Linked DNA regions of Homo sapiens: region 2 is linked to region 1. Evidence: fine-mapped expression QTL. A gene starts in region 1. The other region holds a variant in brackets. All regions are shown on one strand. Distances are between the middles of the regions. Region 1 holds the start of FCGRT (Fc gamma receptor and transporter). Region 2 overlaps RCN3 (reticulocalbin 3).

Evidence for each region. PIP is the estimated chance that this variant, and not a neighbour inherited with it, causes the effect.
Region 2: its variant is the best candidate, but not a certain one, in a credible set for the expression of FCGRT in whole blood (INTERVAL, PIP 0.70).

Annotation. Positions count from the first base shown.
Region 1 is chr19:49,511,212-49,514,116 of GRCh38, reverse strand. FCGRT (Fc gamma receptor and transporter) reads right to left here and starts at 1,456. Exons shown (of 7, transcript NM_001136019.3): 1 at 1,367-1,456; 2 at 644-730; 3 at 1-235. The coding sequence starts at 716. RefSeq lists an enhancer at 1,874-2,436.
Region 2 is chr19:49,534,808-49,537,712 of GRCh38, reverse strand. It overlaps RCN3 (reticulocalbin 3), which reads right to left. Exons shown (of 7, transcript NM_020650.3): 4 at 508-680. Among named protein-coding and RNA genes, the nearest start is that of RCN3, 8.3 kb to the right of the region's middle. The variant AG/G (reference allele first, on the strand shown) is at 1,424.

The sequences.
Region 1 (2,905 bases):
TTGAAAGCTTCCAGAAAGAGCTTCTCCTTGATCCTCAGATCTGTGGTCTCTTTCTCCCAATACCAGGACACCTGGTTTTCCCAGACCCAAGCTCCACAGGGCTCCGCCTCGCCCCGCAGGCTATTGTAGCTCAGGTACTGCTGCGGGCCCAGCCAGCCGGACACCCAGAAGGCAGGAGTCCCCGGGGCAGGCGAGGACACCGCGGTAAGGTGGTACAGGAGGGAGAGGTGGCTTTCTGCAGACAGAAACAGAGCTGAAGGGAGCACACGGGCGGGGAACTAGACTGCAGTGGGACAGATACCCAGGGAGGGAGAAGAATCTATTATGGAGGGAGGGGGACAGATTCAGAGAGAGGGGACAGAAACCCGGGGGGGGGGGGACAGAGACCCAGAGAGAGAGAGACAAGAGACCCAGAAAGAGAGGGGGACAGAGACCCAGAGAGAGAGAGGGAAACAGACACAAGAGGCGACAGGTGGTTCCCAGCCTCAGGCCCAGCAGGAGACGTTGAGAAAGTTAATTGAGCGGAGAAGGCAGCGCCAGGGGCTCGCGGGGAACTCGGGTCCCGCTGGCTTCGCCCCTGCCTGCCTGGGGCCGCCTCCCGCCGCCCGCCTGCAGCAGGGCCCTGGCCCGGAGCGGCCCTCACCTGCGCCCAGGCTCCCAGGAAGGAGAAAGAGCAGGAGCCCCAGCGCCCAGGGCTGAGGCCGCGGGACCCCCATGCTGAGAGGACGACCTGGGGCGGGAGGGGGCACGTGACTCCTCCCGACCCCCGGCCCGCCCCTTCCTCCCGGGACACCGCGGGCACGGCCGGGACCAGGACGCCGAGGAGGGGCTCTGCGGGCTCGGTCCAGACTGACAACAATGCCCTCCTCGTACCTGAAGAACTTTCACCCCTGAACTGGATCTCAGTTGGTTAATTAATTACAGACACTTGATAGGCTGAGAGTCCCGGCCCCGAGCTCCGCCACGCCCCTTCCGCCCCCCTCAGGCCCCAGCCCCTCCTCCCTCAGACCCCGGAGTCCAGGCCCCCAACCGCTCTTCCCTCGGACCCAGGAGTCCGGGCCCCCAACCGCTCTACCCTCGGACCCAGGAGTCCGGGCCCCCAACCGCTCTACCCTCGGACCCAGGAGTCCGGGCCCCCAACCCCTCCTCCCTCGGACCCAGGAGTCCAGGCCCCCCCGGCCCCTCCTCCCTCCTCCCTCAGACCCAGCGTCCAGACCCCCAGTCCCTCCTCTCTCAGACCCAGGAATCCAGGCCCCCACCCCTCCTCCCTCAGACCCAGTGTCGAGACCCCCAGCCACTCCTCCCTCAGACCCAGGGTTCCAGGCCCCCAGCCCCTCCTCCCTCAGTCGGGCCCTGGTCGGCTCACGTTCCCTTCAGCCTCGCTCCCTTCCTGCCTGCGGCCCTGGCCGGCTCCTGGCTCCCGTGACTGGAGACCCCAGTTCCTCTCTCACATCCTGTGGGAGGCTGCTGCTCCCTGACTCCAAGAACATCCAGCCCCACCCCCCAGTTGCAGGGCACACCCCAGGCCCTAGGCCCAGCCTGTTTGTTTCTCAAAACGCTTGTGGTTCTTCTTTTTCCTTCTCTGTGGTTCCCGTTTTTTACTTTGAGGGTGTCTGCCGCTCAGGGAATTCTTGACAAAACTGGGAAAGGAACTCGATGCCTCCGGAGTCCACAACTTGGAGGTCTCTGGATCCTCCTCCTACCCCTCTGTATCCCCGTGGCCTTCCCTAGCGCTCGCTGTTAATCAAAATCTTCTGGAAGCCTCCTTAGTTCCTCCTTCAAGCCCTTCCCCCGGCATCCCCTTAAAAAATTCCTGCAGGTGCTCTTTAATATCCTTCTGCGGGCCGGGCGCAGTGACTCACGCCTGTAATCCCAGCACTTTGGGAGGCCAAGGCGGGCGGATCACGAGGTCAGGAGTTCGAGACCAGCCTGGCCAATATGGTGACACCCCCGTCTCTACTAATAATACAAAAATTAGCTGAGCGTGGTGGTGGGCCTGTGGTCCCAGCTACTCGGGAGGCTGAGACAGGAGAATTGCTTGAACCCGGGAGGTGGAGGTCGCAGTGAGCCGAGATTGCACCACTGCACTCCAGACTGGCAACAGAGCGAGACTCCGTCTCAAAAAAAAAAAAAAACCACATCCTTCTGCTAGGACTTCAGTGACCACATGGTCCCCATACAATGCTGCCTCACTCGAAGGCCCCTCCAGGCACCAGCCCCCGCCCACACTCCTGCTACAAAGCTTCCCATACACTTATTTCATTGTGGTAAAATATTCAAAATATTTACCCTTACTGTCATTTAACACATTTACAGTGCTGTGCAACTGTCACCTCTATCCGAGTTCCAGAGCTTTTTTATCACCCCAAACAGAAGGTCTGTCCCCGTTAAACAGCCGCTGCTCCCAGACCCCTGGCAACCATTCATCTGCTTTCTGTCTTGATAGATTTGCCTATTCTGCACATTTCAAAGAAATTGAATCATATAATATGAAGTCTTTCCTTCCTTCCTTCCTTGCCTCCTTCCTTCCTTCCTTCCTTGCCTCCTTCCTTCCTTGCCTCCTTCCTTCCTTCCTTCCTTCCTTCCTTCCTTCCTTCCTTCCTTCCTTCCTTTCCTTTTTTTTGACAGGGTCTGGCTCTGTCACTCAAGCTAGAATGCCGTGGAGCGATCATGGCTCACTGCAGCCTCAACCTCCCAAGCTCAAGCACTCCACCTGCCTTAGCCTCTCAAGGAGCTGGAATTACACACACTTGCCACCAGGCCCAGCTAATTTTTGTATTTTTGCAGAGATAGTGTCTTGCTATGTTTCCCAGGCTGGTCTCAAACTGCTGGGCTCAAGACAGCCTCCCACCTTGGCCTCCCAAAGCACTGGGATGACAGGTGCAAGACACCCATGCCTGGCCTG
Region 2 (2,905 bases), 24 kb before region 1:
AGCCTAACCAACATGAAGAAACCCTGTCTCTACTAAAAATTAGCCAGGTGTGGTGGTGCGCCCCTGTAATCCCAGCTACTCGGGACGCTGAGGCAGGAGAATTGCTTGAACCCGGGAGGCGGAGGTTGCAGTGAGCTGAGATCGCACCACTGCTTTCCAGCCTGGGCAACCGAGGGAGACTATGTCTCAAAAAAAAAAAAGAAAGAAAAGAAATTGTATAAGGTGGGGCACAGTGGCTGTCTGAGGGAAGGCTGGGGGCCTGGACCCCAAATGCGAGCACAGGGAGGGGAAGGCCAGACGAGGAGAGATCAGACCCCAGGGGACTGAGAGTGGAGGTGGGAAAGGTCACCGTCCTCTGACCTGTGTTTGCGGCCTGGCTTCCCCGGCAAGATGCTGGAGAACCAGGTGACTGCCTGCCCCCAGGTCGGTGCTGGGAAGCAGGACCTGAACCGGAAGCCTGGGTCCCCGGAAGGGTGTGGGGGACAGGGTTCCCCAGCCGCCACTCACAGCAATCACGATGTCCCGCATGTGAGGGAACTCCTCGGGGTGCAGGAAGGCTGTCAGCTCCTCTCGAGTGGCCATCGAGTCCCCATCCTGGTCGGCCACCCGGAAACGCCGCTCGTCCCGAGCCAGCATCTTTTTGTAGGTCTCTGCATCCTCCACGTCATGAAATTCTTCACCTGGGGAAGGACAGGTCTCAGTGAGATGAGCTTTAATGGAGGAAACGCCAAGCAGGTTAAAACAAAGACAAAGTAAATCCTACTGGGGTACAAAGATTTCTGTGGAGTTAATAAGTATATATCAGTAGGCTGGATGCAGTGGCTCACGCCTGTAATAGCAGCACTTTGGGAGGCTGAAGCTGGCAGATCACTTGAGGTCAGGAGTTTGAGACCAGCCTGGCCAACATGGCGAAACCCCATCTCTACCAAAAAAATACTTAGCCGGGCATGGTGGGGCACGCCTGTAATCCCAGCTACTCGGGAGTCTGAGGCACAAGAGTCGATTGAACCCAGGAAGCGGAGGTTGCCGTGAGCTGAGACTGCACCACTGCTTTCCAGCCTGGGCGACAGAGGGAGGCTATGTCTCAAAAAAAAAAAAAAAAAAATTTTAGAAGCCTGGCACAGTGGCTCACACCTGTAATCCCAGCACTTTGGGAGGCCGAGGTGGGTGGATCGCCTGAGGTCAGGAGTTCGAGACCAGCCTGGTCAACATGGTGAAACTCCTTCTCTACTAAAAATACAAAAATTTGCCTGGCATGGTGGTGGGCGCCTGTAGTCCTAGCTACTCGTGAGGCTGAGGCAGGAGAATTGCTTGAACCCAGGAGGATGAGGTTGTAGTAAGCCGAGACCTTGCCATTGCACTGCAGCCTGGCCAACAAGAGTGAAACTCCATTCCATCTCAAAAAAAAAAAAAAAAAAAAAAA[AG/G]TAGGCCGGGTGCGGTGGCTCAAACCTGTAATCACAGCACTTTGGGAGGCCGAGGTGGGCAGATCACCTGAGGTTGGGAGTTCGAGACCAGCCTGACCAACATGGAGAAACCCCATCTCTACTAAAAATACAAAATTAGCCAGGCGTGGTGGCGCATGCCTGTAATCCCAGCTACTTGGGAGGCTGAGGCAGGAAAATCGCTTGAACCCGGGAGGCGGAGGTTGCAGTGAGCCGAGACCACGCCACTGCACTCCAGCCTGGGCAACAAGAGCAAAACTCCCTCACAAAAAAAAAAAAGCATATATTGATACTTTATATATAATTTGTATATATATTTAAGTATATAATATGTTATATAACATATTATTAGTATGTGTGTGTATATCTATATCTATCTATCTATCTATCTATCTATATATATATATATTTTTTTTTTTTTGAGACAGAGTCTCACTCTGTCGCCAAGGCCAGAGTGCAGTGATGTGATCTCGGCTCACTGCAACTTCTGCCTCCTGGGTTCAAGTGATTCTCTTGCCTCACCCTCCAGAGTAGCTGTGATCACAGGTGCACACCATCACGCCCAGCTAAGTATTTTTTTGTGGTAAGACGGGGTTTTGCCACATTGGCCAGGCTGGTCTCTAACTTCTGATCTCACGTGATCCACCCACCTCGGCCTCCCAAAGTGCTGGGATTACAGGCGTGAGCCATGGCACCCAGGCTATGTAACATATTATATCCACCCAATAAATTAGCTAACTTGTGAGAGATTATATGCTAAGCTCTTTATGCACAATATTGCATTTAATCATCACAAAAAAGCACATACAGTGGGTTTTTCCATGTATTCTACTTTCTGAATGCAAAAATTGATTCTCAGAGAGAAGAAATAACTGATCCAAGCGTGTGGAGACAGGAATGGCCCACTATGAGTTGACAGTGGGCCTTTTGGCCCCAGACTAAGGCTGTGATGGGGTAGCTTACAGGGACTGAGATGGCTTGACTGAGAGGAGGGGACGGGCATTGTAACTGGAGGGAACAATATGGGCAGAAGGTAGAGGTTTGAAGAGTGTGGTGAGTTCAGGAAAACCACAGAAAATCCATTTGGTGCAGAAAATGCAGAAAAACAAAGCCACAGGAGGAAACGTCCCGGCTGGGGAGTGGGACCGTCTCCTGGGGGCCCAGGAGGGGGAGGGAGGGGCAGAGTCAGTGCTGGGCATGAAGAACCCCGCCCCCGGAGCCCTGTGGAGGACAGACTGGACGGGGAGGCTGGGGCCAGGGACAGAGAGGAGAGGAGGGAGAGAATGAGGGCTGTGTGTGTGGCAGGGTGTGGGGCACTGAGGCTGGGACTTGGGACAGAAAGGAGGGATCTGAGAGTCAGGGGCTGAGTAACTGGCTTTGGGGTTCTCAGGATGAGAGGTCACAGAAGTTAGGGGTCAGGATGACAAGGCATGGAAAGTAGGTGTCCTTGGCCAGGGATCTCA